2 separate regions of the Homo sapiens genome follow, and region 2 is linked to region 1. The links come from fine-mapping of genetic effects on gene expression. A gene starts in region 1. The other region holds a variant in brackets. All regions are shown on one strand. Distances are between the middles of the regions. Region 1 holds the start of ANKK1 (ankyrin repeat and kinase domain containing 1). Region 2 holds the start of TTC12 (tetratricopeptide repeat domain 12).

The links. PIP is the estimated chance that this variant, and not a neighbour inherited with it, causes the effect.
Region 2: its variant is fine-mapped to the expression of ANKK1 in whole blood (TOPMed, PIP above 0.99). The same link has a PIP of 0.9 or more in blood mononuclear cells.

The regions. Positions count from the first base shown.
Region 1 is chr11:113,382,703-113,392,302 of GRCh38, forward strand. ANKK1 (ankyrin repeat and kinase domain containing 1) reads left to right here and starts at 5,077. Exons shown (of 8, transcript NM_178510.2): 1 at 5,077-5,367. The coding sequence starts at 5,183.
Region 2 is chr11:113,312,273-113,321,872 of GRCh38, forward strand. It overlaps TTC12 (tetratricopeptide repeat domain 12), which reads left to right and starts at 2,311. Exons shown (of 22, transcript NM_017868.4): 1 at 2,311-2,346; 2 at 3,971-4,043. The coding sequence starts at 3,986. TTC12-DT (TTC12 divergent transcript) reads right to left here and starts at 2,184. Exons shown (of 5, transcript NR_199709.1): 1 at 2,058-2,184. RefSeq lists silencers at 2,122-2,371, 2,395-2,689, 2,582-2,681. The variant A/G (reference allele first, on the strand shown) is at 4,955.

The sequences.
Region 1 (9,600 bases):
GTGTTCCTTAAGGCATTCTGTGGTAAATGTTAGATTACTGCCTTTCTCCTATTATGGGAATATTTTCCTTCCAAGAATATAACATTACCTAGTAATAAGGACAAGAACGAGAAATAGAAGGGGGAAGGAGAAGTAGGAGGAGGAAAAGGAGGAGGAGGAAAAGGAGGAGGAGGAAGAAGAGAAGAAGGGGGCTTTATTTGTATTTTTTAAATGTTCTGCTTGGAGATAATTACAGATAAGCACACAATTTTAAGAACTTATGCAGAGATACCCTCACCCAGTTTCCCCCAAAGGTAACATCTTATGTCACTATAGCACAACATTACAACCAGGAAATCAGTGATACAATCCATAGTCCTTACACAGGTGCCGTCAGTTTTACATGCACTCATTTGTGTGTGTGTGTGCATCTGTGTGTGCATTTAATTTGATGGAATTTTGTCACATGCATTGATTCATGTGGCCACCACCACAGTTAAGATACAGAATAGTTTCATCACAAGGTTCCTTTGCACTAACCTTTTACAGCTACACCCACCTGCCTCTCCCCCAATCTCACCTCTGACAACCACTAATCTGTTCTCCATCTCTATAATTTTGTCATTTTAAGAATGCAATATAAATGGAGTCATACAGTATGTAACCTTTTATGATTGGCTTTGTTCACTCAATAGAATTCTCTGGGGCCTCATCCAAGTGGCTGTGTATATCAGTAGTTGCTGAGTCCTATTCCATAATACAGCACTATGGTGTGTTTAGCCATTCATTGGTTGAAGGACATCTGAGCGGTTTCCAGATTTTAGCTATTGCAAATAAAGCTGCAATGAGCATTCATATACAGATTTTTGTGTGAACACTGTTTTCATTTCTCTGGGATAGATTCCCAAGAGTGCAATTGCTGGGTTGTATGGTAATCATATGTTTAGTCTTATAAGAAATGGCCAAATTCTTTTCTAGAATTGCCATACCATTTTACATTTCCACCAGCGTATGAGTGATCCCATTACTCTACATCCTCATCAGCATTTGGCGTTGCCACTATCTTTTCAGTTTTATTTTTAGCCATTCTGATAGGTAGTTAGTGATATCTTACTTGCATTGCTTAGTGGCTCATGATATTAAACATTTTTTCAAGAACTTATTTGTCATCTGTATATTCTCTTCAGAGAAATGTATTTTCCCATTTTCTAATTTGATGCTTTTTTAGCATTGAGTTTGAAGACCTCCTTATATACTCTATGAACCAGCACTTTGTCAAATATGTGCTTTACAAACATTTTCTCCCCATCTGCACTCTTCTCTTCACCTTCACCAGGTCTTTCACTGAGTGAGAGTTTTTCATTTTGATGAGGTTCAGTTTATCAATTTTCCCTTTTATGGATTGTGCCTGTGGGATTCGGCCTAAGAACTTTTCATCTAATCCTAGGTCCAGAATATTTTCTCCTTTTTTTTTCCTAAAATTTTTATAAGTTTACATTTAATATTTAAGTCCATGATTCATTTTGAGTTAATTTTTCAGGTGTGAAGTATCAGCTGGTTCATATTTTTTGCCTAGGAGTATTCCTAGTATATACCTAAGGAATGTAACCTTTAAAAATATACCTAGTATTTAGATATATTTTATGGATGATAATCATAATAACCATTCCAAAAGGTTGCTGTAAGAATTATAACCTTTAAAAATATCCTAGGTATATTAAACTAATATGATATTATATTGTATTTTTATGTTATATTAGTATAATATTATACTAATATACTAGGTATATTTTTAAAGGTTATAATTCTTATAGCAATGTTTTGGAATGGTTATTATGATTATCATCTATTTTACAGATGGAGAAACCCAGAAAGATTTGATAATGTGACCAAGGTTAAACAAATGCTAAGTGATAGAAAGAAGCCAGGGTTTAAATGCGGGTCTGACTGACTGACTCACTCCCACATTTAAACCCTGTTCCTATTGCCTCATTCAATCCCTTTCACTCTGGGAGTCCTGCTTCCTGAACAGATGTTCCACTTTCCTGCATACATTCCTTTATCCTGACCAACCTCAGTACACAAGCTACCAGAGGCTGGGGCCTGCCAGAACCTGTCCAGGGTTCTCCGTGACATGTTTGCAGGGTGGAGAACAGGGGCAGACTGGGAAACTTCCCTATATGCAAATAGCTTGTCATTCCGGTTTGGGGAAAGGCTCACATCAGATTTCAGCATCTTCTAAAGTATTGCAGAGCTCCTGTACCAGCTCACTTGTCTGGGAGGAGCAGGCTAAAAATCTTAGGTTCCCCAAAGACAATCACACATACACACAAAATTCATTTAATAACTCCAAATCCAGAACACTTCCATCTTCAATCTGCCCAAACAAAATGCACTGATAGAGGTTAGTTGGAAGGACTCAGAGCATTTTGGGGTAAAACTTCTATAGCTAGAACCTGTTCCTTGCCCCTTCTGGTGGGTGGGGGTCATAATTGGACTATAACCACTTCATTATCCATTCCCATTTGTAGGTAGATATGGGTAAAGGTAGAGTTTCCCTCCCAACCCCCCAGCTCTCTCCCCTCCACACACTGGCTGCTGACTTCCCAACCAGCCAGGACCTAGGGACTTCTGCACTCAGACCACTGGAAAGAAACCAGCAGCCTCTGAGTTGACTTTACTCTTTTGCAAATCCCTATACCTCACCCCACTTTTAATGAGAGATCCAGGAGTTCTTTGCCTCTGTGACCTTATACTCAGAAAGGGTCCCTCCACTTACAACTTCTCCCAGAGCTTATCCAAAGACTACTAGGCCTTTGCCCTAGCCCATGTTAGACAGCTGTAAGGAGCAGGACAAGCCCAGTCAAATGATCCAGTCCCTCTGGGTCAATGAATGTATCTATTTTGACTGACTCCTCAGAAGCCTCAGGGGTGCTTGAACCCACAGCAGAGAGTTTCAACAGGTGGGTCAGCAGTAATACGCCCTGACCCTGCAGTTCCTCCACCTCCACCCCTGTGAGAAATTCAGAGGTATTTTGTTCGGGATTCTGGCAACATGCCTTGAGCCCTGGGTGTCCCCTCTTCTAGGAATGATGCTTTCTTCAGTATTCCTGTGACAGTCTCTGCAGGCAGACAATGGCAGCTTCTGGTTACTTCCTCTCCCTGGAGAGCCACTTCAGGTATAAGTGGATCAAGGGGAACTGCTGAAATGACTCAGGCCATTCACCCTTGGTATTTCCTCCAGGAGCTGAGATAGGTCTCGCTGAATGTCAAAGATCGGGCCTCAGTCAAACTTCCGCAGAGCTGGGTGGCTGGTCACCTTCCCAGTCTCCATGTTCACCCTCCCAGTAGAAGGTATGAAACATCCTCTTGACCTCCTGGTCTCCCTGATGACAATGTCCTTTATCACCTTCCAAACTTCTCTGGCAGAGGCTTTAAACTTGGGCAGGCAGGGCTACTCCAGAGACAATGGGTTCTGTTATGCCCTGTCTTGCTCCAGCCAAAGCAAGCTGGGGGCCTCCCTCTGACATATGTTTGGGGGATACGTCCTGCTCCTGATGCAGTTTCCATCATCTCCACCCTCTTCCAGGGAGCATGACTCTCTCTCTTCCTTTTTTGTATTCATAAAAGGCTACTCCCTGATCCTCCCCTGGCCAACCATTTCCATAGAAACTAAGAGACTTGAGTTTGAATATCAACTACCACTTACTAGCTATGTGTCCATTGATTACTTATTGTCTTGAAGCCAGTTTCCTCATCTGTGAATAGAAGATGTTGACCTCATAACATTGTTGCAAGATAAACAGGATAATATATGTAAAGCAATGCAGTAACTGAAATAGTCACTGATCCTGGAACAAAGTGAGTGTTCAATTAGTAGTGGCTATCACTAGTTTCTATGACAACTGTCTCCAGGCCCAATCTTTGATCCTTAATCTGCTTGCCAGAATTCATCCTGGAAGTTGCAGGTAAGTTGTTACAGAGGGAGCAAGTTCTCCAGCTTCCACAGGGAGTCTCTGTTTGCCTATCATGCCTACACTGTTCCCTGGGAGTCTGGTGGGCTTGTGGCATGGACGAGGGGCTCTGCAGGTTTGGGCTGAAGGCAAGGCACTTCCTTGTCTGGTAGGTAGGCTCCTCAAACCTAACAGTGATCACTCTGAGGGCTCCTTGTGGACTTACTCAGCTGTAGGCAAATAGTGGCTGACTCTGCACTCCGTGGCCACAGTTCCTCCAGGTATGCCTGTCTCTGGGCAATGGCCCACTTGGTCAGTGCCCCTGGGGAGACCTGTCTGTTCAAGCACTTGTCATTTTCCCTGCTCTGAGGGTCTCCAAGGTGAGAGGGCAATCCCATGGACCCAGGACCCAGGGGAACCTCCAAGCTCAGCACTGGTCAGGCTCCAGCTAGAGCCTCCTCTCATCCCTGGCAACAAACTGCCCCTAGTAACTGCGCCAAGGAGGCCACCTCCCCCGTGGCCACCCCGAGGCTGGGGTCCATCCCTCTGAGGTTGGATAGAGCGCAGCCCAGGAAGGGAGTCCCCTGCAGACAGGAGCCCAGCCTCCCCCGCAACTCTGTCCCTGCTGACCCCTCCTTGGTAACCTATAGCACACCAAGGCTGGCTAACAAACAAACAAACAAAACCCCAACAAGAACAAAGGAAACATGAAACCAGTCAGACCAACAGATTCAGACCAGAAAATCCCCATTAAAATTGTTTGAGCCCCATACTTGCTGGATAGGGGCAGGGGTCCAGGCCTGAATCCTTCATAAACCATAAAACCTTGAATGCACTGAAGGAATGCATAAACCGATTTCACTTAGCGCTGGGCCTAAATAAACTGGATCCAACTTCTCAGGCTGGACTTCTTCCAGCTTCGGGACACCTTCTCCCAGCATCCCTCCCTAGGGGGAACTGGGGAAAATCAAAGGCTGAGACAGGGGAAATGCGAGGGCTTCGGAGGGACATACCCTCTTCCCCAGGCCCAGGTCGCTCCATCCCTGCTGGGGCCTCAGGGCTCATGTCTGGGATTTCCCCACCTTTGCGGGGCAGGAGCGGCTCCTCTTGGGCGGGGAAGGAGGCAGGGCCGGCTCGTCTCCCCATTCCCCTCTCCCGGACCCGAGGAGCAGGAAGCGGCGGCTCCTTCGGCCACCCAGGCAGCAGCCACAGCGGGGAGTGCGCGGCGCGGGGACAGGAAGAGAGGGGCAATGGCTGCCGACCCCACCGAGCTGCGGCTGGGCAGCCTCCCCGTCTTCACCCGCGACGACTTCGAGGGCGACTGGCGCCTAGTGGCCAGCGGCGGCTTCAGCCAGGTGTTCCAGGCGCGGCACAGGCGCTGGCGGACGGAGTACGCCATCAAGTGCGCCCCCTGCCTTCCACCCGACGCCGCCAGGTACTGCCAGCCTCGCCCTCCCCTTTCTCGGAGGAGAAACTGAGGCCCGGCAAGCTTTGGGCCCAGGGAGCTTGCGAGGAAGGAGTGGGCTGAGTTTGGGGCTGAGGACTGTCCCCCGCGGTATTTCTGAATTCCACCCAGTAGCCTGAGCCTCCCAGGCACACCCATACCTGTCTCCCTAACCAAAATAGAGTTGGCACATAATACCTGTTTGTAGACTCAACAGAGGTCAAAGGCAAGCGGGAACTACCTACCAAAGACGCCTTTATCCCATCTGACCTTCCGAACTTGTCCTGCCTGCTTCCATCCTTCTCTCCAGCGCCTTCTTCCCCCGGTGTCCTGTGGCAATAACTGCTCTTGACCGCTCTCTGCCATCCTCCTACCCACCCCAGCTCTCAGGGCAGGGCTGAGCATCCTGGGAGGCTGTGGCACTTTGCTCAGATCTGCAGGGAATCATGTTCTCTCTTCCCACGGTGGCGGGAGGGAGGAGGCCCCTCCCAATCAGTGCAGGCTGAGGAGGTCAGGGGATGGAGACTGCCCGGCCTGATGGCCTGTCCAGGCCCTTGGAGGGTCAAGTCTGGAGTTCTCTCATCTCTGTTTTTGTTTTTGTCCCTTGCTGTCATGCGCACTACAGCGACGCCTTGACATGCCCCTATTTTTCTCTTCCTACCTCTTTCCTACGTTTCCATTATTCTCTGTCTTCCCACTGATTTGGAATCCAGTCTCATTCCCACTGGAGTTGCATATACTAGCTGTGTGCTTGCACCTTGCAGCCATGAAGAAGACACTCGGGATGTTAAACCTGAGCATGATAACCATGTCCTCCTCCCAAGGCTCTGGGACATCAATTAGAGAGTCCGGGACGGGGGTCTCTCTGACTGGCATCTGGCTTGGATGCTATCTGTGGTTCTCTAGGATTACCATGCAAACTCTTAAGATACAGCCTCAGGTGCCACACACTCAGTTCCCAGGCCTTCCCCCACCTTATGAGGAGAGGAAAAATAAGATCGCCTAAGGCCCACTCACCTTCCTCCCTCAACATCTGCCTGTTGGTTTTGGAGGAGGGTCAGAGTATGCTAGGATTTGTCTAAATCATTTATAGCCTTTTGAATATAGAACGAAAGGAAACAGATGGCAGTGACATGATTACACTGTGAGACATTGATGCTAACTCCTGCCACTTTCCCTTCCCAAGTTCTGGGAATTCCCTGGGTGGAGGGGGTAAGATAATTAATGGTAATTAAGACTTAGTATGTATGGATTACTATACTAGGAGCTTTACGTGCATTACTTTACTAGATCCTCTTTCCAGCTATTCATTCATTCATCCACTTGACAAATGCTTACTGCTCTTCTACTATGTGTCAGGCACTGTTCTACACCCTGGGATTAACGATGAATGCAACAGATGTGTCCTTTCTCTCCGGGAGATTGCAGCCTAGGGGGAGGAAGACATTAACCAGATAACCCCACATGTAAATGTAAATGTGCTACTGTGAGAAGCTTAAGAAGGGGAGATTTGTGGCTCTAGGAGAGCTCATTAACAGAAAGTTTGACTGATATCAGAAAAGGCTTCCTTGAAGAAGTTACACTACAGCTGAAATGTGAAGAATGAGTATAAGTTAAGTAGGTGAGGAGGAGAAAGTTTTCCAAGAACAGACAACAGAGTGTGCAAAGAATCTGTGGCAAGAGGGGCATGGTAAGTACAAAGATGGGAAAAGGCCATGATGGCTGGAGTTGGGAGAGTAAAAGAGCAGTGGAAAACCACTGAGCATTTACAACCAGGTAGCGGTGGTGACCATGGGAGGGATTAATCAGAATTGCAGTATGGAGAATGCATTGGGAGGGGTAGAGTGGATTCTGGTTAAGTTAGGAGATTGTTATCTTCATTCTGATGAGAGACGGATAATAGGGGCTAGAGTGGAGTGTTGGTAGTGGAGATAGGAAAGGAATGGGTCAAGCCATATTTAGAAGGTAAAAATCCACCCGACTTGGTGCTGGATTAGTCATGGGGAGGATCACGATGAGGAAGAGGGGTATTAAAGCTAACTTGATGTCTGGCTTGCCCAAAGGAATGGAGGATCCACTAAAATGTCCACTCCATGAGAGTGTCTGTTTTGGTCACAGCTCTGTCTCCTGTGCCTGGCACAGAGTTGGTGTTCAATAAATATTTATTGAATGGCAGTGTTGACAATTAATGGAGAGACTATGAAAAGAGGCCTAGACTTGGAGAGGAAGATCATGAGTTCAGCTTTGTACCTGTTGAGTTTCAGATGCCTTTAAACAACCAAGAAGAGTTGTCATGGACATCAGAGTAAAGGTTGGTGCTAACAATATTAAAACTTGGGAGTCATTTGTTATAAGTGGTCATTAAAACTAGGGCATCAGGCTGGGCCTGGTGGCTCACGCTTGTAATCCCAGCACTTTGAGAGGCCAAGGCTGGTGGATCACCTGAGGTCAGGCAAGACCAGCCTGACCAATATGGTGAAACTCCATCTCTACTAAAAATACATAAATTAGCTGGGCGTGGTGGTGGGCACCTGTAGTCCCAGCTACTCAGGAGGTTGAGATAGGAGAATTGCTTGAACCCAGGAGGCAGAGGTTGCAGTGAGCCAAGATCATGCCATTGCACTCCAGCCTGGGCAACAAAAGTGAGACTTGGTCTCAAAAAAAAAAAAAAACAAAGCAAAAAAAAGGCATGGAGGAGATGCATTCATTCCAAGCACTACGTGAAAAAAACAAAGTCCTTGCCCTCATGAAGCTTATAGTCTAAAGGAGGAAGACAAAATAAATAGCAAATGAATAATAAACTTTTTAGCTATAGCACTCATGACCACCTGACAGTTCTTGATTAAAATATCTAAGAAGGGTTGAGAAGTCTGATTTTCCAAGAAATGGGTTGGTCTAAAAATATTAATGCCAGGGCCCTCTGTGTATGGGGAATATAAGAGTTGGAATGGGGTTGCTTTTTTATGTAGACTTCTCTGTGAAATCCATACTAATTAGGTACCATTTGAGTAGAGATTTGAAGGAAATGAAGGGGTAATCCATGTGGCTCTGTTAGGGAGGAGTGTTCTAGGCAGAGAGAACAACAGGTGCAAAGGTCCTGAGGTGGGACCACACTGGGCATGGTGGAGGAACAGTGGGAAGCCCGTGTGCCAGGGGCACAATGAGAGGAGGGTGATTAGGAAAGGAGGTCAGCAAGCTATGCCTGGCATTGGGGACAAATCTTGTAGGACTTTCTCAGCCATGAAAGAACTTTGGCTTTTACTGTGAATGAGGAGAGCCATTGGAGAAGGGCAGTGACATGTTGTGACTTAGATTTTAAAATATGACTTTGGCTGCTGGGTTGAGAATAGATTGTGGAGAGGAAGCGGGAGAAACAGAGTCCAATTAGGAGGCTTGGGCTGAGATGCACCTTGGGGGAGAGGTGGTGAGAAGTGGTCAGCTTGTTGCTCGACAGTATTTTGAAGGTGGTGCTGGCAGGATTTGCGAAGACTTGGCTGTGGGAAGTGAGAGGAAGAAAGGAGTCGAAGATGACACCAGGGTCCTATTCTGAGGACTAGAAGGACAGAGGCCCCATTCACTGAAATGATGAAAACTAAAGGAAGAGCAGGTTTCAGGGGAAAATCAGGAGGTTAGCTTCAGACACATTTGGTATTGAATATCCAATTGGAGATGATGAGGTTGACTATAGAAAGATTATAGAGGGAGAAGAGCAGAGAAGAAGGGCTTGGACTAAGCCCCGTGGTCAAGTAACAGGATATGAGCCTGCAAAGAAAACAGAGAGGAAGTGACCAGACAAGTAGGAGAAAAGCAGGAGAATGTTGACACGTGGCTCAAGTAACGAAGTTTCAAGAAAAAGAGTCAGAGATCTGAACTATACACTGAGAACTGAAAATTATTGGTTAGATATAGCAACATAGAGGCTGTTGGTGACCTTAGCCACAGGTGTTCAGGGGAGTGCAGGTACCAGAAACTAGACAAAAGTGGGTGCAGCAAGATGATGAAGAGGAGAGACAGCAGTAAATGCTCTCAAGACTTCTGGGTAGGAAGCTATGAAAGAACTGTGCAAGGTAGTTACAATTATTCCCAGTTTTTAGTTTAGAAACTGAGGCCCAGAGGATTCCCTTGCCCAAGGTCATACAGATAATAACGGGTGAAACTGGGATTTGAAATCAGGGCAGTGTGATTCCCACATCCCATGCTTTTTTCCATGCCATGGCAGATGTC
Region 2 (9,600 bases), 70 kb before region 1:
ACAGGCCACTCACACTAGCTGAACAAATGTGTGAGTGAATGGTTAGGTGGTACAGTCAGTTGTGGGCAGATACCTCTGGAACCTAGGAAAGGAGTTTAGTGAAAAGAGTAGTAGGATAGGAAGTAAGTGATTTGGAACTATTGGCCTCAATGTGATAAGAAACACCCTGAGGTTGGGGACCATAGGCATATAGCCTTCATGTATTCAAGGCCTCACAGGCCTAAGAGGAAAATGGGGTGATACTAATGGTGATAACCAAAACATCACTGGTTCTTGTCTCCATCAATTCCCACAGGCTGGAAGGTCACTGTGAAGTACCCTATATCTTTCTGAGGATCCCTATGGTGTGCCTAGCCTGTGCTCATCAACGTCCTTGCTCCTGCCAGGCACCTACACTGTCTGCTACTTCTCCTGAGGCACCTCATTCCCTTGGGACAGCCACTGTGACCATGTCCTGCTGGGATCCCCAGGTCTCCTGCTGCAGTTGATGAGCCAAAAGACTCACTCTGCTGATGCTGTACCCATTCAGCTGCCAAGAGGAGCAGAACATCCGTGGCCCCTTTGTGTTATACTGCATTAGAGGGGTACCCAAGCAGGATGGTATGTGTACCAATGCATCATAGAGACTTCAGCCAAACAGCTCTTCTGTTCTCTACAGGACACAGGCATGCATCCTATGGGGCCTAGGCCACAAGAGAGTCAACAGGCTGTACTTGGAATCAACACTAGAGCTAGCTGGCCATGCCTGGATCCCTCTCCCCTCTGGCGAATTCCATCTCTAGGGGCTCCTTGTTCCCTGCCAAACAGGTTTCCATAAAGCACTCATTTGCCAAGAAGTTCCGGGTGTTTCTGACCGTGAACTTAAGCTCAAGTTTCCCCTAAACCTGCTTTTTTTCCATTGGTAACCCTGCACATAATACTCTGAGATTTTGTTTAGAAAAACAGACTGAAATTTCTTTAGGGCTGTGTGCATGTATTTGGGGCATGAATGAATGTGCCTATTAGCTCATTCTGTTCTAAACCCTATGATTCCCCGGATGTCACGTGCCACCTGTTCCTACTGACTAGGTACCAGGCACTGAAACCACCATTGCAAAATTATAACTGAGATGGTGAAAGGGATCTGACCTAACCGACTCCATCTTGCTTCTCATCTCCAAGCTGTCTTTGTTCATTCCTAGGCATAGGCCAAACTAACTTTGGGGGGAACTTAGTTTATAGTGTAGCTTTGAAACAAAGACAATACCAGCCCTTTCCCAAACAAACCCCCTTCTTGCCCAGGAACTAGACTGCCTTTTCAGGACTAACAAATTAGCCACAAAATTAGAAATTATGGTTTAGGAGTCATGCAGCTAGAGGCTGCAAGATTCTAAACCTCAAATTGCTCCTGGGGATAACATCAACTATTGTAAAACCTAAGATCAGTGCTTAAGATATTTCACAGACACTGCACTCGATGGATCAGCTGGCACCACCCAGATGAATAAACTGGCTCATCTGGTCTTATGACCCCCACCTGGCAACTGACTCAGCACAAGAGGACAGCTTTGACTCCCTGTGAGTTCATCTCCTAGCCTACCAATCAGCACTCCCGACTCACTGACCCCTACCCACCAAATTATCCTTAAAAACTCTGATCCCTGAAAGCTAGGGAGACTGATTTGAGTAATAATAAAACTCCGGTCTCCCTCACAGCCAGCTTTGTGTGAATTACTCTTTCTCTATTGCAATTCCCCTGTCTTGATAAATCGACTCTGTTTAGGCAGTGAGCAAGGTGAACCTATTGGGCGGTTACAGCACTTTAACCATAAACCTTATGAGAAAGTGCCATTTCTCCATTTCACAGGTGAGAAAACTGAGGATTAAAAAGGTTACTCAAATAACTTTCCTAAGGATAAATGTGTGAGTCTTCTAACTCACACATTTATCAATGAACAAAACCGGATTCACAAGTACACTGGAGACTTTACATTTTGGGCAAGGATATTAAGCTAACGGGAGTGAGACAACCCTTCTTCAGTAGAAAAAAGGCGAGCAGCAGGCGCTGCTTTAGTTACCAGCACTTTGCTTCCTCCGTCTCCCCGCGCCAGGCATCGGGCATCCCAACCTCGACTTTGGCCTTCAACTTGGCGCGCTCCGGAGCTAGAGCTCTGCGGTAGCGAATCTGATCGCGTGTCCATGCCCGCCCCCTGTCCCGCCTCCTGGCTTTTGACCCCGTCCTTGGTCCCGCCCCGGGCCCTGGCTCCTGGCCCCGCCCTTGGTCCCGCCCCGGGCCCCTGGCTCCTGGCCCCGCCCCAGCCCAGGCAGGTCACTGCGCCATTTCCTGTCCAAAGCTGGGCGAATCAGGTCGGTGCCGCGGGGTACCCCGGAATCCCCCCTGGGAGCTGGTCCTGCACTGGCCTTCAGAGCCGAGCAGAGGACGCTGCTTTGGGCCCCAGAGCATGGGAAGGTCTTGGCTGCGGTCTGGGACGGCTGCGGTCTGGGACCTGCATGGAGGGCCCGGGACTTGCGGACGCCTGGGAGCGGTTGCTGGGCAACAGTGCGTGCGGCCTGGCCTCTTTGCGCCCGGCGGGCAGCGCGCGTCTGGGGCAGGCTCCGCGCGGGGCTCGGGCACAGGTCCCCGCTGCCGCAGCCCTACCGAGTGAAGCACTGAGCGCGGCGCCGCTTCGCCATCACCTGGCTCTGGCCCTCTCACCCTAGCGTAGGGGGGCACTGGCCAGGCAGTGAGGACCCTGAGATCCATGCCCTGGGAGACAGAGGTTGTCTCCTGTCCATGCACCCGCGCGCCTGCCTTCTAACCTTCATACCGTTGGGCAGATTAATTCACTGGACTAGGCCTCTGTTCCGTGGGAGTTGAAAAGATTTGACCTGGAAGAAACCCTAGCGATTATTCAGTTAAGCCGCAACCCCACCCCCTGTTTTATATAGGTAAGGGTGCTTCACGGTGAGGACTCGTCGCGTGCCTGGTGCTTTACATCAGTCCCCAGAATAGTCCTCGTAGTTTCTCTCTTACTGTTCCCATAGTATGGGTGAGGACTCTGAGGCTCGGAGAGGTTGTGAATTTAGCCAGAATCACACAGCTTGTAACTGGTGGAGATGAGGACACTGAGACTCGATTAAATCACTCGTAGTTTGTTCGTGGCAGATTACGTGTTAGAAGCGTGTTACACTACTATGAAACCTGGCCATAAATGAGAATCACCTGGAAAGTGTTTAAAATCTATATTCGTGTCTGGGCAATGTCCCGGGTTTACTGACTTGAAATCTCGGGCTACGGCTGAGGAAGCTGTATATTTAACAATCTTCCCGATGATTTTTATGATCTGTGGATGAACCACTGAGTACTGCTGGGTACACCACGGGGCCTTCTCGCACAAAAACAACTGTAAAATAATATCTGAGGTACCTAGAGCAGAAGAGACGCTGGTGAGCATGGTAACATTATGTTCTAATCCCTTCAGTCAATTTGTACCCTTTCTTCACTCTTCAGAAACAAGCCAAAGGCAGATTTTAAACAAGTATGGACATTTAGATGCAAATTGCCCCAAGTTTGTTACCTGTCACACATCCACATTTAAGCTTCTGACTAGACCAGCCTGTCATGATCAAAGTCAGGTGTTAGTGTATTTCTCTATCCTTGGCAACCTGTCATCTGCTCTCTTCTCATCTCCATGCCAGGTCCCTAAATCGCCGGGGTTGATGTTGGCTTTGGAAGAACTATTTGCAGAGCGTTTTCTGCACTGGAAGGAGGGCTGGAAGCTTTCTGGAAGCATTGCCGCACGTAAATGAGTGCCTCTTGGCCTAAAACAGCAGTTGGAATGAAAGGGATCACCCTGCTGTTATTCATTGACATAAACAAAACTGTCATAAAAATAATCACTTGGCTCTTAGTTTTAGAAGGCTAATAAGCCTGACCGTTCTGTTTAGTGCTTTATTATTATTAATTTCACCATTATGCTGCATCCCTTAGGGATTCCGGTTCACAATGGATGCTGATAAAGAGAAAGATTTGCAGAAATTTCTTAAAAATGTGGATGAAATCTGTAAGTACTAGTAAATCATAAATTAATTTCTGCTTTAGAGAAGTGGAGTAGATAAATGATTGCTCTAAGTTCCTGGGTGGCTTGACAGGTTTATAACTCTTAGGAAAAAAATGTAATTGAAATTAAAGAGAAGGGTATTGAGAAACAAGTTATAGCCTCAGGGCTGTATTTTCTGGCTGTTAATTGGTATCAGAGAAACTGTTAACATTCTGATAGGAATTCAGGCTGACGGTTTTCTTCCATATTTTGTATCCTTCTATGTGGAATCCAGTCAAAACCAGCTGCTGTTTCCCCATTGACAATGAACCCAGCTGTTCCCTTCAAGGGTCAAGAACCTCATTGATCAGTGTGAGATTCCTCCCGTTTTAGAGTAGAGCCATTTCTGTTTTAGAGCTGCAGAGGCAAAATCAAATGGCTTTCCTTTAGGATCCATCAAATTACATGGATGGTTTATGATCATCATTCCCTTCTCTCTCTCTAGACAAGAAAGTCCTTTCCCAAGTTCAGGCAGGTTGGATCTCAAAGAAATGTACTCTGATCCCACAGATCACATTCAGGAATTTCCAAACCTGTCAGTCCCTGTTCAGGGAGCTTGCTTGAGTATAGAAACAAACAAACCAACAAGCAAACAGACCTTACATAGTAAATACAGGCAATATGCTGAAATTGCTGCTTGTAGCAGATTGTATGGGTTCAAGGAATAAAGTGGTTTTAAAGCTAGCTTGGGTGACATCGTAAATGATACATGAATAATGCTTATCCCTGAATGCTGTTCCATGGAGCTCTGGCCTTGGCCCACTGCCACCTTTCTCTTCAGCTGGTCTAAACATGTAGCTTTACCTGCCACCTGTTTGTTCATGACCCCCACATCTACATGGACACTTAGCCTTCTTTTCTGAGCCTCTGCCTCT[A/G]TGGTACTGTCATACCTACTGTATCCCACAAATAAACTTAAATGTGTCCAAAATTGAGGCATCATCTCTTTCCCTCCCCTTTGCCCTCCCCCTCCCAAATAAAACCTGCTTCTCCTACCCTCACCTTCATCCTGGTCTCAGTTGGTGACACCACCATCCAGAAATTTACAGGTCATCTGGGACTCCTCCCAACTCATAACCCTGCATCCAATTAGCCATCTAGTTTGGTTGGAGAGCCATCCTCTCCAGCCCTCCCTTTGTTCTGGTTCTTCTCACCCAGACTATGTCAACAACCCCCTGATTGTTTTTCCTGTCTCCAGGCTTATACTTCCCACAGAGTAATGTATCTAAAATGCAAATCTGACCCAGACACTTCTCTGCTTGGATTCCTTTTGCAGTCATAATAAATCCCAAGCTCTCATCAGGACTTAAGTCCTCCCATGACCTTGTCCTTACCTCTCTCATATCTCCCTACCTCACGCTTGAGCAGCAATAAACTGCTGATACTTCGCCACACATACTCTGTGTTTCACACTCTGCACTGGATCTTTGCCATTCCCACTGCCTCTTCATCTTTTTTTTTAACCTGGCTAACTTATGCATACTCAAAGTTCATTCAGGTATCATGTATACCAGTGCTGTCCAATAGAGCTTTCTGTGATGATGAAAATGTTCCATAATCCTCACTGTCCACTATGGTAGCAACTAGCCACATGATTATTGAGCATTTGAAATATGGCTTATAACTCCACCCTGTGGTCTAGTGCTTAGGGTTCTGTGTGTTTGTGGCTGCAGCCCAGGTTTGAAATGCGGCTTGTTTCAATTAATTTAAATTTATGTAGCCACATGTGTATAGATTCTGTACATTTACTTCTTGGGCTCTTGCTATGTGTTGAGTGTTGGTAAGGCCTAGAGAATACAGTCAAAGAATTATTCTTTTCATGGTATTAATAGTCCAGTGGAGAAAACAGATATTAAACAGTAATTTCAAGTATGCAATATGAGACACAGAGAATTACAAAGTGTAGGGATCTAACCCAGCTTTGGGAGGTTGTATTAGTCGGCTAGGGCTGCTGTAACAAAATAGACTGGCTGGCTTAAATGACAAAACTTTATTTTCTTAGAGTTCTGGAGTTTAGAAATCTAAGACCAGGGTGTGAGCAGGTTTGGTTTCTTCTGAGGCCTCTCTCCTTGGCTTGCAGATGGGCACCTTCCCGCTGTGCCCTCACATGGTCATCTCTCTGTACGTGCATATATTTGGTGTTTCTCTTCTTACAAGGACACTAGTCATATTGGATTAGGGCAATGATTAGTTACTTCTTTAAAGGCCCTATCTACAAATACAGTCATACCAGGAGTTATAGCTTCAACATGTGAATTTTTGGGGGGGATGCAATTTAGTCCATAACAGAAATTAAATAAAGTTTTCCAGAAGAAGTGAGATTTAGGCAAAATGTGAAGAGTGAGTCGGAGTTGGTCACTGGGAAAATGACAGGGGAGTGTCCTGGGTGGGAAGTAAGGAGGTAGGAAAGCTAAGAGTGAAGAAAGAGTGTGGTGCTTTTGAGGAACTAAAAGAATAAAAAGCCCCAAATGTCTGGAAAGAAGAGATCAAGGAGAGAAGAGTCCCATCTGAATATGGAGGGGCCAGATTAGGAAAGACCTTGGAAACCATGGTAAGGAATTTGTGTTTACCGAGAGCAGTAAATCAATTCCATCTAATTTATGTAATGACTCTTCCCCCAAGGAGGTGGAGCATCTCTACCCCTTAAATGTGAGATACATTTAGTGACTTGCTTCCAAAGAGTACAGTATGGAAAGGGAGGGAAGAAAGTAACTTTACAGTGGAAAAGGTTGGCAAACACAATTTCAGATAGATGATCAAGGTTAACCTCCTGATAAATCACACTGATGGCATGCATCCCTGATACGCCATAATGTGCCATGGTCTTTTTCCCCAAATCCTGTAACTCCAGTCTAACCGTGAGAAAAATACCAGATAAACCCAAATTGCAAGGTATTCTATGCAAACTCATAGAATGTCAAGGTCATCAAAACTGTCAAGGTCATCAAAATAAGGAAAGGGTGAGAAATTGTCGCAGCCTAGAGAAGCCTAAGGAGACATGACTAAATGTCGTGTAGTGTTCTGGATGGGATCCTGGAATAGGAAAAGGGCATTAGGGAGAAAAAACAATGAAATTAGAATAAAGTGTGCAGTTGAGTTAATTTAAAAAAAAGTTAATTAAAAGACATGAAAGAAGAGCTAAATAAATGGAGACGTATTTAATCCTAGGAAGACTTATTTGGTAAAAATGTCAATTTTTAAAATATTCTATGCAGTAAATACAATTTAGATCAAAACCCGCAAAGTAGTATGTACTAAAATTCAGCAAGCTGATTCCAAAGTTTACGTGGAAGAGCAAAGGACCAAGAAGAGCCAAGAAAACTCTGCAGGAAAAAAAAAAAAAGCAGGACAACTTTCCCTACCTGACATTCAAGATTTATTATAAAGCCATAGTAATCAATGCATGGAGGTTTTCGTGCTGGAAAGGACAATCAGGGGAAAGGAATGAAGAGCCTGGAGAAGATTTGCACACATAACAGGGATGATGAGACACATTGCTGGCAGGGACTTCTCAACAAATAATGCTCCTGCCCTACGTGAAAGTCAACTCTAGGTGAATTACATACCTTAGTAAGAAAAAAACTTTAAAACTTTTATAAGACACCATAAGAGAGTATATTTATAACCTTACTGACACAAAAGACCTAAATTGTAAAGGAAAAGATGGTATATTTAACACACTAAAATTAAAAAGAAAATCTCTTCAACAACATATTCCATAAAAACAAATGAAAAGACAAAGAATACCCAAGGGGAAGATGTTTGGAAATACATGTAACCAGTCCAGAATATATACAACTGATACGGGTAGGAGATGGGAATAGTGGATAGAAGAGGGTGGTTCCCTGGCAAAGACCCCACCCTCAAGCCGGGAGATCTGCAGCGCTAAGTGGAAACAGGCATTTCTGTTTTCGTGCCCAAAAAGTTGCCTTTTGGCCTGCCATGCTCCCCTATCCTGTGCCCATGTAAACTCTGAACCCCAGGCTCCAGAAGCAGACGAGCAGGTGAGATGAGGACACAAGCAGACAAATGGCAGAACGACACAGTAGAGAAAAGAGGAGGAATGTCTGAACGCCGAGAGGAGTTTGGCTGGGAGCAGCCAGAGGGGAGTTGGGCCACTGGATGGCCAGGCTCCAGGGGAAGATCATCTTTCCCCTCCATTCCCCCTTCCAGCTCCCCATCCATCCCACTGAAAGCCACCTCCACCACTCAGTAAAACCCCACATTCATCCTTTAGTCCTGTGTGTGACCTGATTCTTCCGGGGATGCTGGGCAAGAGCTCGGGATACAAAAAGCTGTCACTTCCCTCTGCCCTTGTGAAAAGGCAGATGTCCGTCAAGCTGGTTAACAATCAAGTCGTCCGCAGATGGCAGGGCTAAAAGGACACGCTGTAACACGTGCCCAACTGGGCTCCTGCACTTGTCCGTCTGCGTTCTCCCCCTCCCCTCAGGGGTTTGAGCAGTGGTGGTGACTAAACAGGCAAGCCACACCCCTGTCGCATGTCCTGCGAGGGGGATCAGAGAACTCCCCTGTTTCACAATCAAATCAACCAGGCATGGTGGTGTGTGCCTGTAGTCTTTGCTACTCAGGAGGCTGAAGCAGGAGGATCGCTTGAGCCCAGGGGTTCAAATCGAGCCTGGACAACATAGCAAGACCATCTCTTAAAAAAAAAAGAATTTTTTAAAAAAGAAATTATATTAACTAATAAGAAAGAGACAATGACCCAATAGAAAATTGGCCAAGGATAGGAGTAGGCTCTTCGTAGAAATCCAAATGGGTGCAAATCAATAAGAAGATGCTCAATTCCAATCAAATTCAGCGAAATGCAAATTAAAACAATGAGATACCATTCCCATCCATTACATTGACAACAATTAAAAAGTTTAACCCAGCAAGTGATGATAAGAATGTAGAAGAATGGGAACTTCCTCTTGTACTCTTTTGTAGGAGTAAAAATTGGTACAGCCATATCCTGAAGGATATGTAACATGTGCACAAGGAAATATGTACATACAGGTATTCAATTCAGCATTTATTTACTTTAGAAAAAACTGAAAAACCACCTGGCTATCAATAAGAGAATGGATTAACTATGGTATATATAATGGTTTAAATGAATCAACTGGAACCATGTGTATCAAGAACACATCTCTAAAGCATCTTAAGAGAAAAAAGTAGGTTGCAAATGAATGCACATTTTATACAACTATTTTAAAAAATTGTTTAAATATTACATACACAAATATTCTGGTAGATTGCAAGAATGGTTACAAATTCCTTTCTTCCCATCAAGAGTGGAGCCTATTTCTCTGCCACTTGAATCTGGGTTGGCCATGTGTGTTGCTTTGGCCAAAAGGATGTTTGCAAACATGACACAAGCAGAGGCTTGAAAAGTGCATTTGAATTAGGGCTTGCACTCATACCACTCATGAGAAAGTAAGACACACTTACCCGGGTTGCTTGCATTTCTCAAGCCAACAGCCAGCAGACTTTCTAAAGCAGAGCCACTTAGATGACTGACAGT